Regions from separate parts of the Homo sapiens genome. Here region 2 is linked to region 1. The links come from fine-mapping of genetic effects on gene expression. A gene starts in region 1. The other region holds a variant in brackets. All regions are shown on one strand. Distances are from middle to middle.

Evidence for each region. PIP is the estimated chance that this variant, and not a neighbour inherited with it, causes the effect.
Region 2: its variant is fine-mapped to the expression of STX7 in monocytes (TOPMed, PIP above 0.99). The same link has a PIP of 0.9 or more in T cells and blood mononuclear cells.

The regions. Positions count from the first base shown.
Region 1 is chr6:132,502,921-132,518,988 of GRCh38, reverse strand. It overlaps STX7 (syntaxin 7), which reads left to right and starts at 5,873. Exons shown (of 10, transcript NM_003569.3): 1 at 5,873-5,982; 2 at 15,401-15,543. The coding sequence starts at 15,459. It also overlaps the pseudogene RPL21P66. RefSeq lists enhancers at 5,567-5,766, 6,124-6,625 and a silencer at 5,917-6,406.
Region 2 is chr6:132,452,067-132,468,134 of GRCh38, reverse strand. It overlaps STX7 (syntaxin 7), which reads left to right. Exons shown (of 10, transcript NM_003569.3): 9 at 4,060-4,142; 10 at 7,285-16,068. The coding sequence ends at 7,377. Among named protein-coding and RNA genes, the nearest start is that of STX7, 53 kb to the left of the region's middle. RefSeq lists a silencer at 2,311-2,605. The variant C/T (reference allele first, on the strand shown) is at 8,506.

The DNA of each region.
Region 1 (16,068 bases):
GCTTCCTCAAACACGTGAAGGAAAACGATCAGAAAAGGATCTCAAGGAGAAAGTCACCTGAGTTCAATTAAAGCAGCAGCCTGCTCCATCCAGAGAAGCACACTGTGTGAGAACCAATAAGAAGGAGGCTGCTAGAACTTATTTCCTATGAATTCATGCCATAATAGGTGTAAAAAAAATACCTGTAAATTGTAAAAACATTTCTCTTCATTGAGTAGACGTGTGGTGGCCCCTCCCCCGGAGCAATATTTAAAGCAAAAATAAATGAATAAATATACACTTATACAGTCCAACAGACCTACTTCTAGATATTCACTCAAATGATTGAAAACTTCTATTTTTACCAAAATCTGTATTTAAGTATTTATAGAAGTTTTATTCATAATTGCCAAAAATTGGAAACAACCAACAGGTGAATGGATAAATAAGCTGTGTTATATCCAAACAATGGAATATTATTCAGCCACAAAAAAAAACAAACTATAGATTTATACAACAATGTGGATGTATCTTAAATGCATTCTGCTAAGTGAAAGAAATCAGACCCAAAAGGTTATATATTGTATGATTGAATTTATAGGACATTCTGGAAAAGGCAAAACTCTGGTGATAGAAAACATAAGTGGTTGCCAAGGGTGGGAGGAGGGGGATGGGTTGAATAAGGGTTGTTGTGAAAGGGAATTTTCAGTATGGTAGAACTGTTCTCTATGGTATTGGAGTTATGGATACATTACTCTATATATCTGTCAAAAATCCACAGAACTATATACCACAAACAATGAGCTTTATACAAATTTAAAAAATCAATCAGTATATTTGTGGATCATAGGATAAAATGCAGATCTATGACAACTGAATTTAACTGCAAAGTCAACATAACCTAATTTCACTGAAGGGGATGGGTAAAGAGCCGACCTTGGTGATTTTTAGAAAACATTGTTTTGACTCAATATTATAAGGCTAAAGACAAAAAGAATTGTACATAAACACTGCACTAAAGATTTTTTTCTCACACAGAGTAGGAGTTAGCAATTCTGAAGCTATTAGGTTGGTGCAAAGGTAATTGCGGTTTAATGGCAAAAACCACAATTACCTTTGCACCAACCTAATTTTTTACATTATAGAAATAAGAACATAAATGGTAGATAATGGAAGCTAGGTTTCTCACTTCTAGCGAAAGAAGCTAAAAATTAGGACAAGGGAAGGCTAGAATGACCCCTATAATGTTGGATTAGAATTGGGAATGCCTAGATGAACTCGTGTTTATATATATAGATAAAATCTGATATAGCTATGGATATGTAAAACAACTGGAAAACAACTTGGCAGTTTCTTGTAAAATTAAATTTATAGACATACTTTATACAAGGCTTATACTGCATATAATGTATACTGTATACATTTCTCTATGGATCAATTCCCTGATTCCTTACCCCAACTCACACAAACCCCACCTCTGCCCAGTCCAAGCACTTTTATTTTTACCAAATATATTTTGGGGCATGCAGCCAACATGGGGATGGCATGAAGCCTGGAGTAAATATCCTACATACATGAATTAGTATATATAAATTTATTTCCTAGCTCTGTCCATTGAGGGGAGCGTAGAAGCACTGACACCCTAGTAACAATGAGAAGGTTAGTGCCTTGATCTTGATTTCTTTTCTTTTCTTCTTTTTGGTAGGGTGGGGGACAGGGTCTCACTCTGTTGTCCACACTGCAGTGCAGTGGCATGATCTTGGCTCACTGCAGCCTTGACCTCTTGGGCTCAGGCAATCCTCCCACCTCAGCCTCCTGAGTAGCTGGGACTATAGCTACTGTGCACATCACCACACCCAGCTAATTTTTGTAGAGATGGGTGTAATAGCCAAGGTTCTCTAGTGGAACAGAATTAATGGAATACATATATATATATATATATATATATATATATATATATATATATATATATATGAGTTTATTAAGTATGAACTCACATGATCACAAGGTCCCATAGGCTGTCTGCAGGCTAAGGAGCAAGGAGAGCCAGTCCGAGTTCCAAAACTGAAGAACTTGGATGCTCAGGGGCAGGAAGCGTTCAGCACGGGAGAAAGATATAGGGTGGGAGGCTAGGCTAGTCTAGCCTTTTCACATTTTTCTGCCTGCTTTATATTTGCTGGCAGCTGATTAGATGGTGCCCACCAGATTAAGGGTGGGCCTGTGTTCTCCAGCCCACTGACTCAAATGTTAATCTCTGTTGGCGACATCTTCACAGACACACCCAAGATCAATACTTTGCATCCTTCAATCCAATCAAGTTGACACTCAGTATTAACCATCACAACAGGGTTTTGCCCCATTGCCTAGGCTGGCCTCGAACTTCTGGGCTCAAATGATCTGCCTGCCTTCGCCTTCCAAAGTGCTGGGTTTACAGGTGTGAGCCATGCTACTGTGCCTGGTGGTCCTGGCCTTTGATTTCTAAATAGCTTTTTCCAATAAAAAGAAGAAGTGCTTAATAGTAAAATGACTGATTCTAGAGCTGGAGCAGGGAGAATACAAGCTAATTTAGTTGGTACTGCTATACCAATGCTGATTTCTTAGTTTTGACAAGTGGACCATGGTTATGTAAGATGTTAACATTAAGGAAACATTAGGGGAACCTGGGTGAGGTATATACAGGAGTGCTGTACTATCTTTGCAGCTCTTCTATAAATCTAAAATTATTCCAAAATAAAGAATCGTTTAAAACATGGGGGAGAAGAAAAAATGTTTTCTAGCTAATGGGAACTACGTGAGCGAAGCACAGAAATAAGAAAACCCCTGGTTTGTGACTGGGGAGCTAGCTGCTGGGATGGAGGGGAGAGCAGACAGAGAAAGAGGAGTTATTTAAGCCAACATATTCCAAGCATAAATTTTGATGCTTGGAAAGGCAGGATCAGACCATGTGGTCCTTATATGTATAGGGACCATATGATGCATCATCTGAACTGAAGCACGTTTGAGAATGAAAGGGCATGCTCAGAAGACAGGCGGCCAGGACAACAAGCATAAACTAGGGCTGTCCTAGCAAACTAAATATATGGTCACCCTGTGTATATGCAGGGGGCTTGGACTTGATTTTGAGAGCAGTGTTTTCCATTATGCATATTTAAAAGTTTTACAGGCAAGTTCCACCATCAAATACACTCATAAAATACTGGGTAAAAGAAATTTTTACTTGTTTCTTTCCTGAACCACTTCTCAGCGTCTTTAATTTACAAATATGCTCTGTGAATCTTCAAGAATGCAATATAATATGTTTCCCAAACATTTCTTTGTAGACCAATTCCCTGATTCCTTATTTCAACCCACACAATTCCCCAGCTCTCCCCAATCTAATTATTTTGGTTTTTTTTCTTAAGAAATACAGTTCAGGGAATGCTGCAATCATGGAAATGGCATGAAGCCTGGAGCAAAGTTCTCAGATTAGAGCTTCAAATATTCAGTGGTGGCTTTGACAATAATAAAGTTGAGAAGACCTGGAGATAGAAGATCCAACAAGGAGGCTATTGCAGTGGATCAGGATGTCAACCGTGAGGGACAGAGAGAAGAGGGCACATATGAACAACACTTAGGAGGTAAAATTAGAAACGAAAATACCAGTCATCAGGAGGTAAAATTAGAAACAAATATACCGGTCATCATGCTATAATGGCCCATGTAAGATTTCCACGGGATATCTGTTTATTACCTCCATGTTCAAAAGCTAGGGCAAAATCAATTCTGTGCTTGATATATGACTAGGCACTTGTGTGATCTTAAACAGAAAACAAGTAGACTGTAGAGAGACATGGAAGGTGCTTAACAATAAGGCACAACTGAACTAACTCTTGTTTATTAAGTATTAATTTAAGCTTCCTTTTAATCTAGCATAGATTTTTTAAACCAGTTGTGGTTTTCCCACTGTATTATAAATAAAAACAAACCTTCATAAGTCAACTTGTCCTTCTCACTTACCAATAAGTCCCTGTTTGCTCTATTTACCTTTATGCGTCTTTTACTTCTTTGGCTTTCCCAGAAGATCACATAGTGGTCATGTAAAAAATATTTTTAGTTCAGTAACTATTAAATGAACCAGCAATTATCTCCTTCTATTCCCTGGAATTGCTATCCCAGACACTGGAGATACAGCAGTGGACAGTTCTCCATCCTACATGAGAGATGTTACATAGGAGGTATTTATGGTATTTATATTAATAAGGACACCACAAGTGTGCAGATAACATTCCCCACTCAACAACTTCTGGTTTCCTTCAAAATCTCTCCAAGAAGGCCCAAATCTCGCAAATTACTATTTCTGAAAATCCAAATTACAAGCTTTCAGTCATAGGTAACTTCTGCACATGGAAATGATTTATTTTGGGAGATGTGACATTATCACTCATCAAATTAGGAGACTTTTAAAGCCCTACCACTTTCAAGACACCTGGCTGAATTTAACTTGGTAGCAGCCAGATTCACAGATGGAATACTGTGTCAGGAACTCTTAGTAATTCATTTATCTTAATACTTCTAAATTTTGCAAGTTTGTCTAGACTATAATTCTTTTTTTTCCCATTTGAATACCAAAGGATGAAATCTTATTCTAAGTTTTCAAAAGACCTGGAAGGAATCCACTCATAACATATTTTAAAACAAGGAATTGGAATGAGCCCAAGATGAGGGCTCAGACAGCTAAGTTTTGGGCCCAGCATAGTCAGTAACTATCAGGGTAACTTGAAGAGGCCACTTAATCTCAGGTTCTTCTGTAGTGCATTGTACCTTCCCTCCCCGGAGCCCAGAGTTCTATCAAAGGTAATATGAATGGGTATTTGGAAAGTGCACTAAACCTCACATGGATGTAAGATCCTTTCATGTGTTCCTTCAATGATTGAAATGTTTCTTCCTACGTTCACCAGCCACTTCCTAATTCTCAAGTACAATGCACTACTTTCAGTTCTTTATTTACTTGAACTTTGTGTAACAGGTGACATCATGGACAATTCCCTCCTTTTTTCCTTCATTCTCTAGTTTACCTTTTCCTGGTTTATTTCCTATCTTGTGGGTTACTCGTTTTCAGGGTTATTCTTTCTCTGTCCATCTCTCTTAAGCAGACAACATTCCACACTTAGTGTTGGTGAGTTCCAATCAGAATTCTATCCTGGGTTTTGTTTTTTTCCACCTAAGTGCGTCTGGACTTTTGATATCACCTATCCGGGTAATCATTTTAGAAAATAGTGTTGCCTTAATATAGGCAAAGGCTAAGCCAATCTATCTTCTAATTAATTTGGAGAGGGCTTTCTTTCATTTGTAGCAATTGATGCTTTTCATCTAACAATTACAATATATTTGCATATTTATCATTGGAACTGTCTCTGCTTGTTTTAAACCCTGTGAAAACTACGCCCTGCTTTTCAGGAATGCTTAGAATGACTTGTATGTACTAGGAAAACTTGTTTACAAGTGAGCACCCAGAGATGACTCTTCACTTATTCCTTCATTGTTCCTGCTAGGATTGTGTACTCGCCTTTGCATTTTTCGATAGAGCTGTCAACGCGATCTACTGCAGTTAAAGGTTAGCAAACAAGACAGGCAAGAGCTAATGGGGCGGGGTGAAGACCCGCGTGCAAGAAGGCTGGCTTCACCAGATAAAGAAGACAACTGTCCTCCATTCTGTCCTTTTTTGCACGCAGGCTAAGAGGCGTTCACCATCTCTACGTCAGGCTTCAAAGAACAGCTCCCTTGCAATTTTGCTGATACCCCCATTCCTTAGCTTGGAACCGGAGGGGCGGTGAGGGCCGCTGTCACTCAGCCCCGCGGGCCAATAGAAAAGGGGTGAACCCCGCCTTCTTCCTGAGTTGTGCTGCGGGCATGCGCACTGGGCGTCCCCACGCCACCGCCCATCAGCTGAGAATTGCAGCTGAGGGCTCCGGGGTAGGTGGGTGACGGCGGTCGGAGGTGTAGGAGGGAGCCGTGGAGGTCCAGGTAAGAGGACCCTGGGGAGGGGGCTCCCTGGCCGGGCGACAGGGAGGCGCGGTGCCCCTGCGGCTGCTGCGCCTTCTTGTTTGTGCGCGTGGTCAGGTGGCCGCCGCCCTGCGCTCTGCAGCAGGCACTCGGGAGGCTAGGAAGGGCGGGACTGCCCCAGCTCCCGGAGCGCCTGCGGCTCCCCACGCCCCCCGGCCGGGTGCAAGGGCGCGGCGCGTTCCGCATTCCGGGTGCGCGCGGCTGTGGTCAGGTGGGCCTACCCAGCCACGCACCCGCCGCGGTCCCCTGGGCAGAGCTCCGGAGGCGCACGGCTGGCGGAGCGCACCCCGGGGAGGGCGCCAGAGCCGGCTGGGGCCCAGCTCAGGAATCCAGACACGACCAAATGACCTCTTCCTCTTTTCAACTCACGGATTGAAAAACACACTAAACTTCCCGAATATAGAGGAACTGAAAAATGTATGGCTGTAGCAGGCGAACCGTGTATGTTTATTTATTCAGAGGATCGTAGTATTGTTTTTTTAATTTGGCTTGATGACTTTAACATACTTTGACATTCTTTGAGTATACACCTTTAATTAATTTACATAAAAACCTTTAAACGTACATAAAATATTTCTAGTATTTCCTCCACCTTGTTTTCTAGTTACTTTCTTTAAATTCAGACAAAGAAAAAAAGTTGCATTTCTGATCAAATGCTGTGTGTTTTTTCCCACAAATTTCTTACATTTGTTTGGCTCTTATCTGTATACGTTAATTTTTGTTTACCTCAGATCGTTGTATTCTGACTATAATTATATATAATATATAAAACTTGCCCAGAATCTGGAAGAAAAGAAAGTAATTATGAAATGCTGTGCTATTTAATAATGTTGGAAGTGGACATTTCTTCTGCAGGTTCTCTGAGCACACCTGGGCAGAGGCTGATAACGGTGTTAAACTGTGTTTTGTGTTGTGGACAGGCCTTATAGGCTACTTTGAGAAGTTGGCCTCAGACTCGTGACTAGTTAAGAATTATGCTCTTAACTTCACAGTTTCTGTAGAGGTTAATATGATACCATATTAACTGATTAACATCATAATTTTTCCTCAGATATGTTACTTATGTTGCTCTTGATAACAAAATCAATCCTTATTTTGGTTATGACCCCAAACTTTAAGTGCTGATGATTGAAAAGTAAATTATAGAAAATATTCACAGTAAGTCTGAGTGAAGTTTGCTGTGATTCCATTTAATTTGCAAGTTTCATGTGTGAAAGTATGAAAAAAACAATCCTCGGTATTGTGAACTAAAACCAAGTAGTACAAAAGGTCAGTGATGAAAGAGCTAAGGCCAAAGAATACAGTTAATGTAGTTTTTGCAGAGGATACTTATGTAGACAGAGCACCCTCACATTCCTTGAGCATTTACTATGCACCAGGCACTGTAGATTACACAGGATGACAAGGTCATCTCTCTCCTGTTTATATTCCAGAAGTAGCTCCTGTTTGTATTCCAGAGGTGTAGGGATAAATAATAAACAGTGATTAATTCGACTTTTGAGTATTGTGAAGCAGTAAGTTAGATTGACAAAGAGTGACCAGTGGTGAGTTCTCACTTTCATATCAGAGTGGTCACAAAGGTTTCTCTAGCATGTGATGAGGCCTTGCTGGGGAGAAGGAGCCAGTCACGTGGAGATCATGGGAAGAGCCTTCTAGAAATAGGAAATGGCACCCAGCAAAGGCCCAAGGCAGCAAGAAGCCTGGGACCTTCGGTATCTGAAAGAAGGCACTGGAATTTTATGTTTTGGAAATGGTAATATTTACCCTCACGCTGGGTGTGTGTTCTTAGGAGGTGGGTACATTCATTCATTCTACAAATGTTTGTTAAGCACTTGTGATGTAGCCAGGCAGTGAGAATAGTGCAGTCCACAAAACAGACAAAAAAATGCTCACCCCCCACCCCTCAGAACTTACTTGGGGTAGAGGGTATAGAGAAGTCCAGTTGTTTATGCTGATGCTAATGATTAAGAAAGTGAAATTGACTACTTCTTTGCCCAGGGTAGATTTATAGAGCATGAGATATATGCTAAATGGAAATCTTAAGGATTCTACAGTATATCGGATTTTAACTGGGAGTAGTGTTTGACACTTCAAGATTAAATTTTAACATTCCTTTTGTTCATTCCTTTGTGTTCTTTAGAAGCCGTCTTGAGAAGACTCTCATCTGAGTGTTGCACTTTGATTCTCCCTTCCTGTTTTTCTCTTTATAGTGTTTGTATATCTTCATAGAAAGATGATTATTGCAATGTGGAGATTAGCACTGTGCAATAGATCTTTCTGTGATAATGGAAGTGGTCTATGAATGAGCTGTCCAAGCTGCTGGCCACTAGCCACACAGAATTTTTGAACATTTGAAAGGTGTCTAGTGTGACTGAGGAACTGATTTTTTTCATTTAACTTAATTTTAATTAATTTTAATTTTTTAAAAACGAGAGCTACAATGTAATTTAAGTGATACACAATATAAAATGGTGTAAATTGTCACATGAAAAAATGAAATGTAGAGTAAAAGTGTAGTTTCTTACTGCAATCAGTTATCTTGTTAGCAGCTTAAAATAACCTGTAATAAGATTTTTTTGCTTTTATTATTTTAATCGACAGATAATGATTTACATATTTGTGGATACATGTGATACATCAGTAGATGTGTACAATGTGTAATGATCAAATCAGGGTAATTAGCATATCCATTACCTCAAACATTTAACATTTCTTTGTGTTAAGAGCATTCACAATTCATTCTTTCTTCTAAGTATTTGAAAATATGCAATAAATTGTAATTAATTGTAGTCACCTTTTAGGGGTATAGAACACTAGACTTCATTCCTCCTACCTAGCTGTATTTTGGTGTTAGTTAACCAACCTTTGGCTATCCCCTTCCCGCCATCCTTCTCTGCTTCTAGTAACCACTATAATTTTAACAGCCCATTTAGTTAGTGGCTAGTCTGTTAGTACAGGTCTAGGTAATGAATTATATAATTATTATTCTGAGCAATTAAATAGGAATTCTGAGTGGGCTTTCAAAAGTATTCAACAAGAGTACTTTAGTGCGTAGCAGCTCTGGGCTAGGTAATGGAGACTGATGTGGAAAGCAGACATCTGAATAACTCAGCATCCATTTAGCCTATATGCAGAGATCATAAGCTTTTAATCAATTTGTAGTTACCTATCCTGTCTGTCTATGCTTGTATATATATTTTTTAAAGACAACCATTTGGTTCCTTTCCTTTGTGTGTCTCATTATCAAAAGAGCCAACTGTTGTTGCCTTTTAGATACCACTTATTAGCAGAATAATAGAGAAAAGGAGTAAGCTATTCCTCTGTGTTACCTTGATCAACTCATGTAGTTATCCCAAACATATTCCTTCATCTTAGGAGTGGGAATAGCAAAACTTCATATGGGGCATGCAGAAAAGTGGTAAATTTGGTTTTTCTTTTGTCTTTTTTTATTTTATGTTATGTTATGTTATGTTATGTTATGTTATGTTATGTTATGTTATGTTATGTTATGTTATTTTGAGACGAGTCTCGCTCTGTCGCCGGGCTGGAGTGCAGTGGCGTGATCTTGGCTCACTGCAACCTCCGCCTCCTGGGTTCAAGCGATTGTCCTGCCTCAGCCTCCTGAGTAGCTGGCACTACAGGCGCATGCCACCACACCCAGTTAATTTTTTTAGTAGAGATGAGATTTCACCATGTTGGCCAGGATGGTCTCAATCTCTTGACCTTGTCATCTGCCTGTCTTGGCCTTCCAAAGTTCCGGGATTACAGGCGTGAGCCACCGCGCCCAGCCCAAATTTGGTTTTTCTAACTGAGTTCACCTGCCCTCAATTTTGTTATACAAGGAAGCAGTATGGCTTAGTGTTTAAAAAATGTCGGCTCTGTGGTTATTTTCAAATATTTGCTCCTTTGCTTATAATGATAATGAGGCATAATGATATGCCTCAGTTTCTTCATGTAAAAAAATCACATTAGCAATTATACCCACATGATAGGCTTATAAGAATTAACTGAGAAAATAAATTTAAAAGTCATAAGCACAATGCTTAGGAAATGTAAGTCCTGGATGAGTGTTGGCCATTGTTAACTTTGTTTTATTTTACACATCTTTCTTCTCTATCTTTTGCAAATTGCTTTTCATTCTTCACACATGATTCCTGGCTAGATACAGTGGCTCAAACCTGTAATCCCAGCACTTTGGGAGGCTGAGACTGGAGGATCGCATGAGCCCAGGAGTTCAAGACCAGTCTGGGCAACAAAGTGAGACCCCCATCTCTATAAAAAAATCAAAAAATTAGTGGGATGTGGTGGCAGGTGCCTGTGGACCCAGCTACTCGGGATGCTGAGATGGGAGGATTGCCTGAGCCTGGAAGTCAGGGCTGCAGTGAGTCGTAATCACACCACTGCACTCCAGCCTGGGTGCTCCTGTCTCAAACAACAACAACGCCAAACAAAGAAAAAGTAAAACAAAACTCATAATTCCAGTCAATCTAAGTAGCACCTCTTTGGGTGAATGAAGCCACTTGCCAATTGTCTCACCAGCAGGAACTTTCTCACATTTAGTAGCTTGAGGAAAGGGATGAAGAAAATTGATTGTGTTTGTGACTAAGTGATTGATTTTCCAGAGAGGAAAAAAGGTGGCCTTGAAAGAAAACAGTGAGAAGACTTGGGCTACACTGGTGTGAGTTTTAAGGGTAAGGAAAATGCTGTAGAATACTGTCCTTGACTTGATGGAACTCTTTATGGGAGAGAGAGTAGGCCTCAGGTGTGCTTGCATGGTTTTGAGACAGGTGATGAGTTTCTCTTGGTCTTGTGCTGATGCTGGTCCTGCAGCTGCAAGAACAGATCATAACTTTCCTCTGTGTAGGGTGGAAAAGCATTTGTTCTCTGGATGTGCATTATCTCATTTTGATTCTGGCAGTGGGCCCAAATGCTAAGTGTCTTGCCCAAAGTAGAAATTTCCAGTTGCTACTTCCATGGTGTGCCGCACAGGCAATGGCTGAGTTCTTGTAGCTTCACAGACATGTAGACACGAGAGAAAGCCAAGGGTACGAGCTGGAGACATGGATGTGCGACTCATTCAGGTATAGATTAAAATGGAACCATGTATATGGAGGAGCATCCCCAGAGATTACATGAATAACAAACTGAACATTTTTTCATTCAATGTGTTTGTTTTGGCTTGTAAGCCAGTTTTTCCAGAGATCTACTTGATAGAGGGAAAGGAGAAAGGAAGATGTCATTGAACCAAGAGAAAATTGTCTTTCTCCATACCTTGGAATATTATTTGGCAATAATGAAGGAATATTATTTGGCAATAATGAAGGAATGAAGGACTGATATATGATACAGCACAGATGGACTTTGGAAGCATACTAAGAGAAAGAAGCTAGTCTCGAAGAACACATTGTATGATTCCATTCCTATGAAATGTCCAGAATAGCAAAGCTATAAAGATACAAAGTAGATTAGTAGTCACCTTTGGCCAGTGAGGTTGGGGAGAAATGGAGAGCGATTGCTAATGATTACAAACTTTCCTTTTAGCGTAATAGAAATGTTCTAAAAGTGATGATTGTACAATGTTGTAAATATATTAAAAACCATTGGCTTGTGTACTTCAAGTAGGTGTATTGTATTGCCATATCTCAATAAATTATATCTCAATAAAGCCATTTTATTTATATAAATTTAAGGGGTGCACATGCAGTTTTGTTACATGGTTATATTGCATAGCGTGAAGTCTGGGCTTTTAGTGTAATCATCACCTGAATAATGTACATTGTACGCATTAAGTAATTTCTCATCCCTCACCCTCCCATCCTTTTGAGTCTCCAATGTCTTCTTATTCCACTCTCTGTCCATGTGTACACATTATTTAGGTTCCACTTACAAGTGAGAACATGCAGCATTTGACTTTTTTCTGAGTCATTTCACTTAAGATAATGGCCTCCAGTTCATCTGTGTTGCTGTGAAAGACATAACTTCAGTCTTTTTTAAGGTTGAATAGTATTCCATTGCATTTATATACACTACATTTTCTTTATCCATTCAGGAATGTTAATAGACACTTGATGGGCACTTAGGTTAATTCCAAATCTTTGTTCTTGTGAATATTGCTACAATAGACATATGAGTGCAGATTATCTTTTTGGTATAATGGTTTTTTTTTTCTTTTGGGTAGATACCCAGTAACGAGGTTACTGGATCAAATATTAATTCTATTTTTAGTTCTTTGATGACTTGCCATGCTGTTTTCTGTAGAGGTTGTACTACTTTACAGTCTCACCAACAGTGTGTGTGTTCCTGTTTCTCTGCATTCTTGCCAACATCTGTACTTGTTTGACTTTTTTTCTTTTTTTTCCGTTCAAGATGTGTTTGTGGATGAATTTTTAATAGCCATTCTGACTGTTGTGAGATGATGTCTCATTGTGGTATTAATTTGCATTTATCTGGTGCTTACTGATGTTAAACATTTTTCATGTGCTTCTTGGCCATTTGTATGTCTTCTTTTGAAAAATGTCTATTCATGTGCTTTGCCCCCTTTTTAATGGGGTTATTTGTGGGGTTTTTTGTTGAGTTGTTTGAGTTTCTTGTAAATTCTGGATATTAATCTCGTTGGATGTGTAGTTTGCAGATATTTTTCTCCCATTCTGCAGGTTGTCTGTTCATTCTGTTTATTATTTCTTTTGCTGTGCAAAAGCTTTTTAGTTTAATTAAATCTCATTTTGTCTGTTTTTTGTCTTGTTGCCTGTGCTTTTGAGGTCTTAGTCATAAATTCTTTTCCTAAACCAATGTCCAGAAGAGTTTTCCCTATATTTTCTTTTAGTATTTTAATCGTTTTAGGTATTACTTTTAAGTCTTTAATCCATCTTGAGTCGATTTTTTTTTTTATATGTTGACAGATAAGGGTCCAGTTTCACTCTTCCGCATGGGGCGATCCAATTTTCCCAGCACCATGTATTGAAAAGGGCGTCCTTTCCTCAGTGTATGTTTTTGTCAACTTTGTCAAAAAGATCAATTGACTGTAGATATGTGACTTTACTTCTGACTTCTCTATTCCATTCCATTGTTCTATGTGTCTGTTTTTATATGAATATCATGCTGTTTTAGTTACTATACCCTTTTAGTATAATTTGAGGTCAGGCAATGAGATGCCTCCAGCTTTGTTCTTTTTCTTAAAATTGCTTTGGCTATTCAAAACCTGTGTTTTTTTTTTTTTTTTTTTTTTTTTAAGTGACTTGGAGATGCATTTAAAATTGCATGGTTTCAAGGATGTTCCGGATGGTGTTGGTGTCATTGAATCCCCATGTCTACTCTTGTTCTGTCTGGGCCCAAGTCCAAGGCTACCTGGAAGGAAGTTTATTCCTGTCTCCCCACTGTAGTGGTCCAGCTGTCTGACTTTAGGTTTGAATTTACCCTTTAATGAAATTGCTTTTGGATCCATCTCTAGGATTTGGTGAGACCCAGAGAGCCCAGAATAGATCAGCTGTACCTGAGAGGGAAGTTGGAGAATATCTAAAAGCCACCAGGACTTTCAGCGTGGCCAGGCACATTCAAAGTGCACCAGAGTTCCAGGCATAGAACCAGTACTGTTCTAATGGTCTCAACAGTTCAGCTGTTGTACTTCCTGCCAACACTGTCCCTTAGAGCAAAGACACATACTTCACTGTGGCTTCTTCTCTACCAGAAATCTTCTGTGGCATTAGTTCTATGTGGTAGCAAGCATGGATAGCCTTGGCATCAGAACCCTGGGACTGAATCTCACCTCCACCTGTGGGTGGGTTGGGTTACCATTACTTAATCATAATAAGCCCGCTGTTTGCTCATCATTAAAACAAGAATAATGCCACTTAATTGAAGGAGGTTGTGAAAAAATTAGTCTGTGAAATACTTTTTGTGTCGCAGATGTGCGAGAAATGTTAGGCCATTCCTCTCTTTCCCTTTATGTTGTTTTCCCCTTGTCCCAGCTGTGAATCATCTGATCCAGGGTTGGCCAGGAACCTTCCCTTCCTTTTGTAAATACCATACTGCATGTGGCCTTTCCACGTGCTCTGGGTCTCTCCACCCCAGCCTTCACGTCCTTGCCTTTGTTGTTCTGCATACTGGTCATAACCAAGCATCCAAATCCTATGTTTCTATTTCATAAATTCTTTCCAGACAAGGATGATGGTCATTTTTTCTTTTTGTAGCCCTTCTCATTTTAGCCTAGCACGTGATCTTTTATGGATTTGTGGGGTTTTTTGTTGGTTTGCATTATTAACTTTATCCTTCCTCCTAAATGACAAACTTGATTTGAGCAGATACTGTGTCAGTGTGTTTTGTTTTGTTTGCATCTCCCAGGTGCTTAGTTTAATGCTGGGCATGTACCAGGCTCTTAGTAGAGAGCTAGCTTACAAATTGACCACCAACAATTTTGCAGTATTCCAGTGCATATTCATGGAAAAGATGGGGTGGCGGTAGTTGAAATTCTTTGCTGTGCGCAGTTCTGTATGCAGGGACATTCCTTTTCAACCTTCTTTCCAAACCCTGATTGGAGTGGTGTGGATTGAAGAGGTAGAGAATGTCATCTCACCTGCCTCCTGTGGCAGTATCTCAGTGTCTCTTCTATTCTGAGATGCTGGCTGCTGAAAGGGGAGAGTCATTCGTTCTCCTTCCTCTGTCAGGAAGGTTTGATAAACATTTTATATGACATTTGCTTCGCAGTAGTTGGCTCTGCTATTTCAGATTTAACCTTTTCCATTAAAATTAGAGCCCTATTAATCATACATTCCTGAGCAGGTCCTGTGTGTGTGTTAAATTAGATATTAAGGTTGGTACAAAAGTAATTGCCATTTTTACCATTACTTTTAATGGCAAAAACCACAATTAAAAGTAATGGTAAAAACTGCAATTACTTTTGCACAACCTAATACAGTGAAATTTCTGGGGATAGCCTGAAGTCTGTGTTCCATTTAATAAATATTTAAATGCCTGTTTGTGCTAAGAGTTGTTTTAAATATTGGAGAAAGATAAATAAGCATGTGGGCCCTGCCTTATAATTGTTTGGAGTTTAGTTAAGGAAAAAATATGTAAACAACTAAAATTATATACAGGTAAGGGATTTAATAATTTTTCTTGAAGAGATCAAAGACGTTTTCAAAGGAAATATGCAATTTGAACCTTATTTTAATTGTTTGATGTGTTTAACATGACTCTGTCCTTTGAAGTCCAGTTTTTTTTTTTTTAGTAGACATGAGAGTTTTGCTATTTGATGTGTCACTTTGCCAGATTTCAACTCTATTAGATTAATCAAGTTTGTCCTTGTAACTTCACAGATTGTTAATTTGGAAAATGTAAGCCAGTAACTTAAAAAATATATCTGTGTGACTTTTATATTATTTAGGTGACTGCTTAGAAAACTGCACAGCATCTGATGAAATTAGCGAATAAGAACATCAACCATGTCTTACACTCCAGGAGTTGGTGGTGACCCCGCCCAGTTGGCCCAGAGGATCTCTTCTAACATCCAGAAGATCACACAGTGTTGTGAGTTGAGTTTTAAATGGACTTCACTATTTGTATCCACTCTTAACTGAACTTGGTGGAGGTTCATAAAAGGACAACTCTGCTGATTGAGAGAGGGAGGAGCATTCCTCTAACAACAGGTTTTAAAGGGCTCGAACTCTTTAGAATGAATGCAAGAGAATTATATTTGAGATAACACTTACTGCATTTTTCTATAGGAAGTCAGGGCCAGGCACATAATACATTATTTCATTAAATAAAATAAAGATTTAAAAGGATAATGGATTCTTATATCTGCTTTAAAGCTATCTGGTTCTAGATGAGATGATGAGACCTGATGACTCAGTCTCATAGGTTTGGAACCAGGTAGCACTACCAAGGGCTTAAGGAACATAAAGTTTATTAAAAATAAAATCTGACTGGATATGGATTAGGTTAATCTTATGATGGGCAAGTATGTGGTACCTTATTAAGGAGCAAGAGGAACTAAGGAGAGGACGTTTTAATCTATTGAGGAAGGTATTTTAGAAAATCAGACCTGCATTC
Region 2 (16,068 bases), 51 kb after region 1:
GCACCATGAAACATTATTCCAGCTTATTTCCAGGGCCTCTGGTTTTAGTCTTACTCCAATTTATTTGTCATCATGCTAAGCACTTTTGGGGAAACTTGTGGTATATGTAACTGTGCATGACATCTTGTCTTTTAGGTATTAGGGAATAGGTAGACATTTGCCTAATCATTCATTTTAATAGCTTTTTGGTAGATGAATTTAGTAGTATTACATAGAAGTTAGGAATTCTTTTTAGAAGTGATTTTCTTTTCTAAAGTTGCTAAGAATCCCTTAAGTATTGAATGTAATAGCATTTCAATTAGGGTGTAGTTGTTAACATTCATCAGGATCCTGACCATCTTGAAGTCTGGAGCTATGTATTGGTATGTCTAAAGATGCTTTTAGTATATTTTCTGAATTTGGTCCAACTGAAATATTTGCACCTTTACTTCAGTGTAACTATTTTTTATCCATTCTTACCCTCCTCTGTATCCCCAGTAGATCACAGGGTAAAATTTCAAAAACCAATTTATTCATCATCCGAAATATGTTGAGTGGCTACTATGTCCAGACACAAATCTAGGCATTGGAGATTCAGCTGAAATTAAATAACAGATAAAATACCCTATCTCAATTGATCTTATAATGGGAGGAAAGACAATTTTTTAAAAAGGCGAGAAAAGCAAGTAAATGGTGATAAGTGCTATGGAGAAAATAAGGCCAGGGTAGAGGGATGGGACTGCTAGGGGTGGAAATTGTTGCTGCTTGACACAGGGTAGTTAGGTATGATAGGTACTTACTGATAGGTAACATTTTAGTGAACCCTTGGTAGATTTAAGGGAGCAAGTAAGAGAAAGTGTTCCAGGCAGAGAGAACAGCGAGTACAAAGGCCTTGAGGCAGAAGCATACCTGACATTTTTAATGAGCAAGAAGGAGATGGAGATCATGTCCAAGTGCAGGGGATGATGTCAGGTAGGAAGATTTCAGTTTTTACAAACGAATGAGAAGCCAAGGAGGAGTTGAGCAGAAGAGTGCTATAACCCTGCTTCAGTTTCGAAAGACTCACTTGGCTGCTGGAAAAAGACCAAAAGCAAGGAGGTCACCTAAAAGGCTATTGCAGTCATCCAGATGCTCAATCTTGTTGGCTTGGATTAGGATGGAACTAGAGGGATGGTGAGAAGTTCATGGATTTCAGATATTTTTTAAGTGGACAGCCGAAAAGATTTACTGACTGGCTGGGTATGAGTGTGAAAGAAAGAGTTAATTTAAGGGTGATGCTAAGGTTTTAGCTTGGCCCACTATGATGGTGAAGTTACTGTTTTCTGAGATGGGGAAATCTGTAAGTGGAGCAGGCTTAGATGGGTATAAATCAATCATTTTTGAATATGTTAAGTTTGAGGTGCCCCTTTACACCAAGTGAAGGTTTTCTTGACATTATTAAAGTGAACATGGAGTTCAGGGGAGAAGTCTGGGCAGGGGATCTAAATTTAGGAGTGATCTGTGTACACATAGTATTTAACACCACAAGATTGGGTGAGATAATCCAGGGATTAAGTCTGGGTAGAGAATAGAAGGGGTCTGAGGACTTAGCCCTGGATCCTCTAAATGTTTAGAACAGTGTCTTCAAACTACATGTATTCATTTATGTATGGTTTATGGTTGCTTTTGCACAGTGAAGGGGTAGCTGAATACTTGTAACAGAGATCATACAACCCACAAAGCTTATTCATTTTCTGGCTCTTTGCAGAAAAAGCTTCTTAACCTCTGATTTAGAGCCCAGACAGTTGAAGAAGAACAAATAAAAAGACTAAGGAATAGCCAGTGATATGGAGGAAATCCAAATGAATGCATCGTCCTAGAAGGGAAGTGAAAAAAAGTGCTTCCAGAACAATAGATGGTCAGCTGTTTCAAGTGCTGCTGTTAGGCCAAGAAAAATGAGGATTAAGATTTGACTACTGGATTTAACAGTGTGTAGGGCATAGGTGACCTCAATACGAGCTGTGTTGGTGAAATAGTGTAGGTGAAAGCATGATAAAAGTAGGCTCAAGAGAGAATGGGAGGAGAACAGTGGTGGATACCAAGTATAGATAACTCTTTCAAGGAGTAAAGAGGGGAAGTGAAACAGAGAATGCAGTCATAGCTGCAAAAATGGATGTGGAATAAATGAGAGGTTTTTGGTTTGCTTGTTTTTAAGATGGCAGCTATGGGATTGATGAAGGTGATCTACCAGGGAAAGAAATACTGATGATAAGTAAGAGAGAGAGGAAGTTTGCTGGACTGAGGTTTTTGAGTTAAATGATAGGAAATGTGATAAAGTGCACAAATGGAAAATTTGGCTCTTGCTCGGGGTATATAGTTCTTCCTGGCAACAAGAAAGTTGTCAGAACACACAAATATTGCATGTAGATAGGGTCATGAAAACGTGTGGAAATGTCTTCTGATGGTTCCTGTTGCTTCAAAGAGCTGGAAATCAAGGTCATGGGCTGAGAATGATAATGCCAGAGGAGGCCTGAGAAGCTTGAGGAGAGAAGAGAAAGTATGACGTAGTCTTTCAGAAGTCAGAGAAATGAAGTAGACCTGCTTGGCAGTCATGACTTTAAAGTGAAACACAGTTAATCCTTTTTACATCCATAATCAGCTGCATGGGTACTGGTTGGGGTTTTGTCATATGACTAAAGTGGAGGGGCAAGGGGGCTAAGGATGAGAGTAAGCTGAGGCTAAGTGATTGTCCAAGGACTCTAAGGCTAGGGTAAGGAGGGAAGTGAGGACATGCCATATGTGAGGGACAGTGAAGAAGTGGTAGGATCAATGAAAGTTGAAAATTGTTGGAGCCAGGGAATTAGAAGGAGTGAGCTCTAGAGATAGAAGGTGGTGATCAAAGAGTGAGACCCTTGAAATTGAGATTATGGAACAACTGCAATTATTGGAATGTCAGGGTTTGGGATGTGACCATGGAAATGGGTGGGTGAGGAAAGGTGTTCGTCTTTGGAAAAAGTATGGTCAGTGAACTGTGAGGCCAGGGTGTTAGAAGGGTCAGCAGTTGGATCTTGAAGTCACCAGTATGTATAAGAGAAGTGTTGGAGAGAGCATCAGTGAGTCAGAGGCTAAAATATTCAAGGAATGAGAAGAAAAGGCCATGCGATTGATAGATGTCTGCAACAAAGAGAGTTGGCTGAGTTTGATAGCATGAGCCTTAAAGCTGAGAGCTGGTAGGGAGGAAGAGACAAGGGCAAAGGGTCTCATGCTTCAAAATGACACCCGTTCCACCTCCAGGCCCCTGGAGGGTGGGAAGAAAAACTGCCACCAATTGAGAAGGCTTCATGGGCCCTCGGTGAGGGCTAGATTTTAGCACAGAAGTATGTTGATGACCACAGAGTAAATGGCCTTCAGCACTCTGTATTTACCTTAAATAAACATTGTCACATGCTTGCTACTGAGTCGGCCATTACAGAACACAAACTAAGTAGAGCATAGGTATTATGCTCCAGTAACTTAAATTACATTCCATTTACAAAGACATAGAGGGAAAAGAAATTGAGAAACATTAATGACTAACATAATGATTAAGGGATCAAGTTTTAGCATTTGGGTTTTTCTGTTTGTTTGTTTCCCTCTGAGGACATAATATTCTTTGAAAAGTCAAGGTACCAGTTTTTATCATGATGAACAAAATCTTCAGCAGTAGAAAGAAGAGAGTTGATCTCTTGTGCATTGGTCTTGACATAGACCAAGCTGTGGAGTTTGACACTGAGACATCTCTTGTGCTGACACTGATTTGATAATGTCAGGGTGACAGTACTTTTCAGGGGTTGCCAGGTAGAGCTGGAGTTGCTCTGTAATGAAGATGATTAAGGTTCTGTTATACAAATGCTCTTATATTGTTTGGATCACCTGAAAAATAGTATAGGTGTATACTATAATTCTTAAAGCCAGCTTAAAAAAATTCAACTTTATGATATACTACTATTAACCTTTGAATAATGACCATATTTAATCTTACCTTGAATGAAATTTAGTGATTTGTTACTGGAGCATCAATCCATGTTTAACACATTTGTGTGTGTGTGTTTTATTTTACAGATAGCATAGAAGCCAATGTGGAAAATGCAGAGGTGCACGTTCAGCAAGCAAATCAGCAGCTGTCAAGGGCAGCAGATTATCAGGTAATTTAACTGTGATCAATTTTCTTATAACTTATCCTTTTCGTATGTGTGTGTGTGTGTTTGTGTTGAGGAAGCAGGGAGAGATTAGGTTTAAAATGGCTGAAGATGTTAAAATTTAAAATCCCATGGAAGAGAAGTCTGTTTAAATAATACCAGTCAGTTTAGAACTGTTTTTAGCCTGTGTTCTTCTCAGGGTTGAACCAGAATTGTTGGCCCACAGGGAGAGAAAGTTTAGTGTTTGGGCGGCAGAGACAATTCTAGGCTTTCTGATGGCCGGGGATCTCTGATGTCATTGTGACATTTCTACCCAGAAACCTTTTTGTGATAGGCCCCTCCTTCCCATTTCTTGCTGCTCCCTTTTACTTTTTCTTTCTTTTTGTCAGTGACACACTGGACTAAAGAGGCAAATTTCCTTGTCCTAGAGAGATTGCTTCAGGTCTTGTGGAAATCATATTAGCTTGGAGTGTCACTGTTCATTATATATTCTGTCCACATTCAGCAGACCCTTCACCAGGAATGAATTTATTTCTTGAGTCGGGTTAATATAGGGAGTCCACATGCATGTGTCAAATATAAATTATATGTCAAGTACTATACAAATATTAGAACTATCAACTATTAATACATCATACAATATGCAGACCTTTGATGTTCAAATTGGATAAGGCCAGGCTCTTTGGAAACCCCTAAATACCATGTAGCATTTGATTTCCTTTTTAAAACTCCATTCCTTTGTTGCTATCATTCATAATTATCATTTTCTTGACCTTATTAACTTTTTTTTTGACACAGAGTCTGGCTCCGATGCCCAGGCTGGAGTGCAGTGGTGTCATCTTGCCTCACTGCAACCTCTGCCTCCTGGCTGAAGACATTCTCTTGCCTCAGCCTCCCGAATAGTGTGTACCCCCACGCCTGGCTAATTTTTGTATTTTTTGTAGAGATAGAGTTTTGCTGTGTTGCCCAGGCTGGTCTGGAACTCCTGGGCTCAAGCGATCCACCCATCTCAGTCTCCCAAAGTGCTGAGATTACAGATGGGAGCCACCATGCCCAGCCGCTGTTAACTTCTTATAAAATATCTAAGATATTGTCACCTTCTCAGACATTTTCAATTGCTTTTTGTTTTTCTCACTAACCTTAGAAGTTGCCTTTATTTCACAGTCCATCTTTTACTGGACAAATTACTGCATATTCAGTGATAAGTAAATAATAATGAAGCTATGGAGATTGCTGAGTTATAACCAGTTGTATTCACTGACAGTCACTCCTGTTTATTATCTTTGTCCATGTCATTCAGATATGCAGCTCAGTGAAATTAATATCACTATATCACTGTGTCATGGACTTTAGGTATCCCTCACGAATAATTGAAAACACACACACACACACACACACACACACACACACACACACCCCTGCAAATGCCAGAAGTCTTCTGGAGCTGTTAGCATATAACTGCTGAAACTTAACAGGATCCATCAGTGACTAGGTTCACATGGTATTTTATTTTGCTTTTGGATTTGGGGGAAATGTGGATATTCTGCCAAGTTTTACTCTTCCTCTTCCTTGTGGAAGGCCAAGCCTACAGGAAAAAGCACATGTCCCAAGCTACACCCCAGGACTGGAAGCTGCCCCTAGGCTTAATTCCCCCAGCTCCCGAAGCGGGACGAGATGGCCATGCAGCACAAGTGCTGAGAAAAGAGGCAGCTTTCCAATAGTTCTGTTTGGAAGCCTTGATATGTTTGGGTGAACCCTAAGAATAAGGAAGGTGAGAAATTCAAGTTCACTTATCACCACATTGCCCCAGGGTCTCATTACCCCACGCTAGGGGGAGTACCCCAGGCAACAAACACACCATTGTGGGATACCCGTGATGACTCACAGGTACATTACATGTGTGTTTGTGGTAACCAACTGGAGTCTGGGAAAAATATTTATGCATGGTATTGAAATTTTAGAGAAATTGTGTTTGATACGTAAGGAGTATTCACTGGAAAAATTAGATGAATATGTGGAATATTCAAACTATTTATGGTTTTCAGTGTAATTTCAGACTCAGAAATGTATCTTTTTATAAATATTTTGGTACTTCTACTTGACACAAAGTAAATTTACAAATTTTTCTACTTTGTAAGAAAAAGGATTCCTGCATGTTGATGTGAGGTACAAACGCCATTAAAGAAATCTACAACTGAACCAGGAATGAAGAACGGAACAAAATTCTTAACCATTCGGTTTTCAATGACAGCATTATGATTTTGTTTGCTCTGTGGTTTTGTTTGTTGAGATTTTGAATGTAGTTTCCCATTAATATTAAAGAATGAGAATGATTTTGGAAACTCATTCCAAAATCATTGTATTTTGGAAACAAGAAATATGTGTGAGGGGCTGGGCGTGGTGGCTCACGCCTGTAATCCCAGCACTGTGGGAGGCCGAAGTGGGCAGATCATGAGGTGAGGAGAATGGGACCATCCTGGCCAACATGGTGAAACTCCGTCTCTACTAAAAATACAAAAAAAAAATTAGCTGGGTGTGGTGGCACGCGCCTGTAATCCCAGCTACTTGGGAGGCTGAGGCAGGAGAATCTCTTGAACCTGGTAGGTAGAGATTGCAGTGAGCCAAGATTGTGCCACTGCACTCCAGCCTGGGTGACAGAGCAAGACTCCATCTCAAAAAAAAAAGAAAAGAAATATATGTGAAGAAAAGTTGCCAATTTGTACTTACTGATATCTTCAGAGAACTCATTTTTAAGAAAAACTTTAATAAAAGGTAAAGAATGTTTAAGCTCGTAAGCTGTTCTTTATTTTTATTCATAGGTAACCTCAGTCTCTTGTTTAAGTCAGTAACTTATTTAGTGGTGTCTTCTTTCTTAAGGTCAGCCACACCCTTAGAAAAATTACCAATGAAAGTTGAAAAATTGCTCCCTTAATTGTAGCATTAGTTCAAGAATTTTTTTGAAAGAATAGTGCCATATGTATTAAAGAGATTTTTGAGGAACAAAAAAACACAGTCAAAAATTTGAGGGCAATATACTACTACTGATTTTACTCTAGAAATGAACCAAATTATTTTTAGTTGCTGTAGAGGTACTCCACTAAATCTGTAAACATGTTTTTTTGTTTTGTTTTGTTTTTTGCGTCTGCAGCGCAAATCCAGAAAAACCCTGTGCATCATCATTCTTATCCTTGTCATTGGAGTTGCGATTATCAGTCTCATCATATGGGGATTGAACCACTGAAGTTATAAAGGAGCACACTGTCGCACTACATTGTCTAAATTATGTAGGAAGATTCCTGTAATCATGTTTTTTTAATTATTATTTTAAAGCTATTGTATAAAGGATGGTTCCCATACTTTGTTATTTTTATTGGGGGGGTTGGGGTGGTTCCTTTGGATTAAATCTGATATTTTCTAATACTGAAAGATTTTCTAAATGTCACTGCTGACATAACTCCCTTGGTCTTCAATTTAATAGTTGTTAAGTTTTTGCCCACATTGCATATGCCTTTCATTTATAATTTATTTACCCTGCTTGACTTAGTTTTGGGAATTCGTAAATTTAAAGGTGTGTGTATTCTGTTTGCATCTCCCTGTCACTGTGACACACCTAGATGTGTGTTACTTCAATTAAAATTCTCAAATTTAATTTTGATTTGCTTCAGCAGGGAAAATATTCTCAATAATGTAAAATAATTAAGGTCTATACATGGGTTGTATTTTTCTGGTTCACAACAGCACAAAGTGTCTTTCATTTTTTTGTTGGTTTTCTTTTAAGATCTTTTTTACCCTGAAGTCGGTGAATACTTTTCTAGTTTATTTGATACTCTTTCTGTGTATATATTAAGCTTTTGCTGTAGATTGCCTAGTAAAATTACTAAGGATAGGTTGTTTTTACATATGGTCTATTTAAGTCTGATGTTTACGGGGGAAAGTGTAGTTACTAAAAATGTTTAACATAATTTGGAAGAAGAGTATGAACAACCAATACCAATACCTATTGCGTTTGGATTCTTAAGACCCCAGTTTGTTATTCCACTAAACTAGTTATCTTAACCATATCATCTGGTTTTGTGGGCCATTATTTACCTTCCCTTATGTCTTATAGAATAATGGTTAATATTTTTAGGTCAAAATTACTTTTGGAAAGTAACTTTCCCACAATTAACTGTTTTTGAGCACCTGACAAAATTTAGTGTTTACCTTGCGTGCCATTTTGTGTCATCCTTCATTAAAAAAGCAATTGGAGGTTTGCCAGTTATCTCACTTCCCTTTTTAAATCAATGTTGTTTTAATGCACTAATCTGAATTCTGTAAAGAGGATTATCTTAGTTTATACTTTGTATTTTATAATGTTCTTGTATAGCAG[C/T]TCGGTACTGAAGGCGGTGTTTAACTTGGCAAGCTCTGAGACTTCAAATGGGAACAAATAGTAAGTAGCTAAGTAAACCACATCTTTGCAACCAAAATAAAGATGAGTTAAAAGGTATCTGGTTAGGCCTATTTCATGAGGACTATGCTCTGGTGGGACCACAGGTCACCTGATACTTAGTGCTGTGCTGCCTGAAACCTCAGCATGGAGACATCACCACATGCACTGTGGCCATTCAGCATCTTTCTGGAGCACCAGTTCACTCCAGGTTTTTATTTTAGGGTGTCATCGATTTTACCTACTTTGTCAGACTGGTAGAAGTTGCTTTGCATATCAGAAAAACTCCATTTTTTTCCACAAAAGGGATTACAGAAAACTCTTTTGTGAGTGAGTGATTGGAACTTAGAGACTCCTGTTGCCAGAATCAGACTGCCCTAGAACAGAATGGACAATGCAGGGAGGAGAATTCACACAAACAGCACCTGTTCTGAGGCCTGTGCCAGCCCACCAGGCCTGCTCAAATGTGGTCTTTACTTCAAGTGCACAGAGGCACATGAGGTTTCTGGTGATAAACCAGCGTCTTACCGCTGTTTTAAAGTCCCATCCCCATGGCTTTCACAATCAGTTCCGTTTTTTTTGCTGTACTTGATAAAATGTTTATTCTCATACAGGTCAAGTACATTTACTTCTATTCACAGTGAGTACCCAATAACAACAAAAGCGCTTACAAATTTGGGGGGCGTGATTTTAGTACCTTTATTTGAAGTGTAATCATTTTAAATTATTATTATTTTAACTGGGGCAGTTATCAGTGGTTTAAACAGGAACTTTAGTGGCTTCAATTTGTTTAAGAAACATATTAAGTTTGAGGGAAAAATTTCCCATGAAATATTTGGAACGTAAGAGTAGTATTGATTAGAGAAAATTAAATAAGAAACATAGTATGGTAGCCAAATTTTTTAAAAAATCTTGAACTTTTCTGTAGGTCAGTTTTAGAACTGCTGTGAAAAGTGAAGGTTGCCCTGTGGAGATTAAAATTAGAGTTGTTTTCATAACTGACAGCATGGTGAATCCATTTGAGTCAAAGTGAAGAATTTCCTCATCAAGTGACTATACATTTGTTTTTGTGTGCTCAAAAGAAATACTCAAACACAGACTGATATTAACCAGCCAGGTAAATTGAACGACAATGTGGCATTAGGTATTTGGCTGTTTATTGGTCGTTAAATACTATGGTTTTGCAATATGATTGATGGTAAAAGAGTGATGTCATATTGATACTAGAGTAGCTTGTTTTTTTAGTAGGTGTGGGACCATCTCTTTTACAAGTGCAACTCAGTCTAGGACAGCCATGGATGCAGTGTCTGGAGTTGGACCCTCTGAGCCCGCTGGCTGCCCCAGTAGCATCTGCATTGGTGACCAAGGACACTGCACTTTGAAGAGGTCGCCACTGGGTTATTTAGTGTCTTCACTGCTTTTGTTAAAAATTGTAAAATTTTGTACACAAAAAGTTGTGTTTTTGAATATCAATTGTTTAGACACACCTACAATGATAAATAAGTGCCTTTAAAGGCCCCTCTTTCCATGAAATACATCTGTGGTTTAGCAAGGAAAGTACAAAATAGTTTATGTAGTTGGTATAATTTTTATTTGTGTCTTCATGTAGAAAAAATGAATGTCATAATAAAATATAAAACTTACGTAAAGAAAATAAAGTCATTGTCCACCTTAATAGCTAAGGTCCACAAGGGTAACTTATGCAGCATTTATTTTTTTTGAAAGTCAAAATTGAATTTATTTCTTTCACATGGCTGGTTTGCTGCAATATGAAGTTTCAGAATGGGCTGAAGTAAGTTGATTGAGGGATTTGAGTTGAATGACATTTTCAAGTTCATTTAAATATGATAAAAATTCATTGGTGGTAAATAACATCTGTCTTTCCTGGAAAAAAAAAAGTTGTGTATTTTCATGATTCAGTTAAAACAAAAAATGAGCCTGTGAATCCCAGGCCTTTTTAGTCCTCCATAACATTTGAACAGTTTGACTTGTCAGCAAAGAAATACACTTATCAAATTTTAAACCAATGGGAGCCTGAAAGTGTTACAGTGTACTGCTTCTTTGACAAAATTCTGTTTAACAACTACCCTAACATAATTTATAAATCAATTAAGATAAAACCATTTTTTTCTGAGTATTTAGGAATTTGTGTCCTCAAAATACTGTGACATGAAAGATAGGAAAGAAATTACCTGGTTGCCAGACATGCACGATTATCTTTCCTCATTTCAGCTGGATTTTCCAAAGTCAGTAGATTGGATAAAGCAGCATCTCATTCACTGAGGTCACAAGATAGGTAGGAAACTTCTTTAATGTGAATTTTGCATATTTTAACAATTCAGTTAGAAAAACAGAAACCACTTGATGGATTATAAGTGTAAAGTGTTTTAACATAGGGAATTAGACATCAAAAGGGTGGGTGAGGAAGGTGTCTGCGGCCCCAAAGTGGGTGGATCTCAGGAGCTGGCCCAGGCACTGCTGTGACTCTTGAGAACATCCAGAAGGCTGTGCTGTTGGCGTGCAGCACTGACAGTGTGTCTCAGGGAGCTGTCCCCAGCTGTCAGCTGTTAATAGCTCCAAAGCCAGTGCCTTGCAAGAGATTTTGAAACTGCTGTGAAACTCATGTCCTCTGCCCGCCTACACTTCTGTCTGCAGTGGCCTCTGAGGAAAGATGGTCTCTCCTTTTCTCATGGTCAACTCTCAACTTAGAACCAGAGACAGAAGGAGTTTGTGGGAAGTGTGGTTTCTGGTCTACCTGCACTGCAGAGGACATTCTAGAAAGAGAAGTGAGTTGACAGTCTAGCATAATTGTGAAACAAACACTGAGATGTACAGTTCAAACCACGTGAAGTGGAAGCCTCAGAATTTTCCTCACTTTCATTAAAGATTCTTTGATGGAAAAATTTAGAAGCATTGGCTCTAGATGGTAAGCAAGTCATTTTTTTCCAACCAAAATAAAAAATACATATACTAAGCTTCTGGGGCCCCAGGACTTAACACAGTTTCCTTCCTTCCTTCCCTTCTTCCTTCCCTCCCGTAGTAGTTGCTTAATAAATACTTAATTTGGCACTTATTTGGGGCCGGCTTTTTGCCAGGCTACTACATGCCTGGGCATAGTGTTCTAAGAGTGAACCAAAAGAATAAGCTTCCTGCCCTCAGGGAGTTTATGTTTTGTTATTTGGCATATAAAAAGAACTTGGTGTGTTAAAAGAAGGGAAATAGCTGTGTGAAAGGAATGAGGCAAGGAAGAAAGGGAATGTCTAAATATAAATCTCCGTTTGGACCAGCCTCCTGTTTATCCAGTTTTCCTTACTAAGTAACTGAATTTCATTTTCTTTTCTTAATTGACAGACTACCAGAAAATTGCTAGTTTTCTAAAGAGAAACTACTGATTTGAGTGATGATCTGTGTGTAATGGCTCCAAAAAGGAGCCGTTCTCTTGGTGGCAGCAGTTGGATTCAGAGCTTGGGCATCCTGATCATCAGGACAGACATTTACAGGATATGTATAGAATTACTGCCCCAAATAGAGGGCAAAGCACTAGACAGAAGGGTGAGATCCAAGGGGAATTTGGAATCTATATTTCATCAGAATGCACTCAAAGCAAAAACAGTAAGTATGCTCCATATAAAGAAATGTTTCTTAAAATGTTTTTAATTTAACCCTACCCATCCCTTGGCAAATCTTTTTCTTTTAAATCAAATAGGAATAAAGAAGAAAATCTTCCTATTGGCCCATTTTCTCATTATTCAAATACCATATCAATACACCAATTTTAATTCTTTGTTTTTGTAATCATTTGGTTAACATGAATATTATGTAATATTTTTCTCCAAATAATCCTAATTTTAAATGCAGAAATAGAGCTAAATAACACACTAAATAGGTTTTTGTAGACACTGTAGCTTCTGGCAAGTTTTTAAGAGGTTGGTCACTTAATTGCTTAGAGTGGGATTCCCGTAGGTTTTGTGTAGTGATGGCATTTATGCTTAAAATGTAAGTGGTGGAAGGCAAAACCAGATTTCCTGTCCAGTCGTTACACGCACAACACCTCTACTTGTTGACGAGGGAGTTTTCTAGAACTGAATTGAATCTTTAAATAAACTTGAAAGGGCATTAATTCCCACTTTGGCCAACCCAAAGTACAAATTTTTAAGTGTTTACTGTAAGTATCGTTAGGCAGTAGTTACTAACTCCAACACCTAATAGCATTGGTAGAAAGCTTATAAATGCAGTTATTTAGCCTCGACTAAGATTTTTCTGATACCTAGTTTCACTTTTTAATGCCCTCTGAAAGTTTTTTGATCAGTTGTTTAATGGGAGATCTGAAATGTTAAACTCAGACCAGAAAGAAGAGAACCTGTTTTCTAGAAATTAGGTTTTTAATCCAAGTAAGATGCAAGCTTTTGCTTTTTTAATAACTTGTATAGCTAAAAACTTGACGGTGAAAAGCTCTCAGATCAAAGCTGATCCTTCTGTCAGTAATGATTCTAAAAATAAGCAAGATTTTAATGGGGAATATATTTTATTTCATTCTTATCTCAAACCTAGGTACTGTGGTCGTTTTGAGTTCATTTCGAGGCATTTTCAATGTGCCTCAGGCCACATCCAACCTCTTCCCAGGGCCAGATTTAATGTTCAGCCTCATAAAGGTTATCATAGTTTTAACATTTAAGTACTATTTTGCAGTGGGTATATACCAAAATTTGCTAATAGTAAGATAACCTTAGTTATATATCATTCACGTTAGTTCTATCTTGGAGGCAATAAACATTTCTTGTTCAAGAAATTCATGTTCTATCTTGGAGGCAATAAACAAACATTTTTTGTTCAAAATTAGGGCTACCCTATTGTCCTTATGTCTTTTCCTGATCTGTGGTCAAACATTTTTCTTAGTCATTTAGAAATTTTCTATGTTGTTTTAAATTTTCTTTAAATCTAGAATGGAGTATGTGACCAATACTTTCCTTTGGAATGGTATGGACATTTGAAATAGAGCCCATTCTTTATAAAGTATAAAATATGTTTAATGCTAGTATTTTTAACTAAACTTTTGAGAAACTAGATTCACATGCTGTTGTAAGAAATAATACAGAGACCTCTTTCGTGTACCTTTCACTTTGTTTCCCACACAGTGAACATCTTTCAAAACTGTCATACAATATCATACCCAGGATACTGACACTGGTATAGCTAAGATAGAGAACGTTTCCACACAGAACTTTTTCTAGCACAGGGATCCCTCATCTTGCTTTTGATGACCATACCCACTTCACTCCCATCCCTACTCCCTTCTTAACCCTTGGCAACCATAATCTGTTCTCCATTTTTATAGTTTTTTTTTTTTTCATTTCAATAAAGCTGTATAACTGGAATCATAATAATATGTAACCTTTTGGGATTGGCTTTTTTTCATTTAGCATGATTTTCTGGAGGTTAATCCAGCTTATTATGTGTATCAAGTCTATTGACAGGTACTTTTTAGTGTGAATAGAATCCCATAGTATAGATGTACCACAGTTTGTTTAACTGTTCACCTGCTGAGAGACATTGGGCCAGTTTTTGGCTACTATAAATAAAGTTGCTATAAACATTTGTGTACAAGTTTTTGTGTGAACATAATCTAGTTTTCTGGGTCAAATGCCCAGCAGTTATATAGTAGTTGGGTCATATAGTAGTTGAATGTTTAGTTTTTAAGAAATTGCCAAACTTATACCAAGTAGCTGTACTATTTTATATACCCACCAGTGGTGTATGAGTGATCTAGTTGCTTCATGTCCTTTTCAGCATTTGGTGGTGTCTCTTTTTTATTTTAGTCATTCTGATAAGTGTATAGTGACAGCTCATTGCAGTTTTGATTTACCATTTTCCCTTCGCTAATGGCAATGATGTTGAGCATCTTTGTTTCATATGCTTATTTGCCACCTGTATCTCTTCTTTAGTGACATGTTTCTTCATGTCTTTTCTAATTGGATTTTTTTTCTGTTGAGTTTTGAGGGCTTTTAAATAATGTGTGTGTGTGCCTCTGTGTGTGTGTGTGTGTATTTTTTTCTAGATACTAGTCCTTTGTTGGATGTGTGATTTGCAAATATTTCCTCCCAGTCAGTAGCATGTCTTTTCATTTCTCTTTTCTGGGCCTTTCACAGAGCAGAAGTGTTTAATTTTGATGAAGTCCACTCTATCCATTTTTCTTTTTATGGATCATGCTTCTGGTATCAAGAACTTTGCCTCTCTCCTTAGATCCCCCAAATTTTCTCTTTTATGTTGTTTTCTAAAAGTATTATAGTTTACGTTTTACTTTTAAGTCTATATTCCATTTTCAGTTAATTTTGTATAAAATGTGAGACTTAGGTCTGGGTTCATTTTTTTTGTTGTTGCCTATGGATATTCAATTACTCCAACATGATATTTGTCGAAAAGGCTCTTTTTTGTCCATTGAATTGTTTTTGCACCTCTGTCAAAAATCAGTTGAGCAAAAATGAGTTAATGAGAAATCAGTTGGGCACATTCGTGTGGGTCTATATCTGGGTTTTCTATTCTTTTCCATTAGACTATGTGTCTATACCTCCACCAACACCAAAATCTTGATTACTGTAGTAAGTCTTGAAATCAAATAGGCTGGTTTATTCCACTTTCTTTTTCAAAATTGTTTTAGCCACTTAGTTCCTTTGTCTTCCCGTATAAACTTTGGAATAATCTTGTCTGTATCTATTCAAATATCTTACTGGGATTTTGACAGGAACTATGTTATACCTATACATCAATTTGGGGAGATTTGACATCTTTACCATGTTAAGCCTTCCCGATCATGATCACAGGATCACTTCACTTCATTTCAGTTAAATTTTGTTTTCCTTCATCAGTATTGTGTGGTTTTCAGCATACAAGGTCTGTACATGTTTTGTTAGATTTATACCTAAGCAATTTAATTTTTGAGAGAGATTGTAAATGGCATTGTATTTTGAATTTCCTGTTCACATGTCTATTCTAAGTACATAGAAATAAAGTGAATTTTTCTATTTTGTATACTGAGACCTTATTGAGCCCACTTACTCATTTTAGGGGATTTTGATTGATTCCTTGGGATTTTTTTTTTATATAGATAGTCATGTCATCTGCAAATAATGAATAGTTTTATCTCTTCATTTCTGACCTATATTCCTTTTTTTTTTCCTTTCAGTCCCTTAATGCAGTGGGTAGAAATTCCAGCAGAAATAAAAGCAGTGAGAGTAGAGATCCTTGGCTTGTTTCTGGTCTTAGGCAGAAAGGATTCAGTGTTTCACCATGAAGTATAATGTTAGCTGTAGGTTTTTAAAGTAGATGCTCTTGCTAAAGTTAAGGAAGTTATCTTTTATTCCTTTTTTTCTGCAAGTTTTTATTATGAATTTTATGTTGAATTTTGTCAAATGCTTTTTCTGCCTTAATTTACATAATGCCATTTTTCTTCTTTAGCCCATTCATGTGGTAGATACATTGATTGATTTTTGAATGTTGAGCCATTGTTAC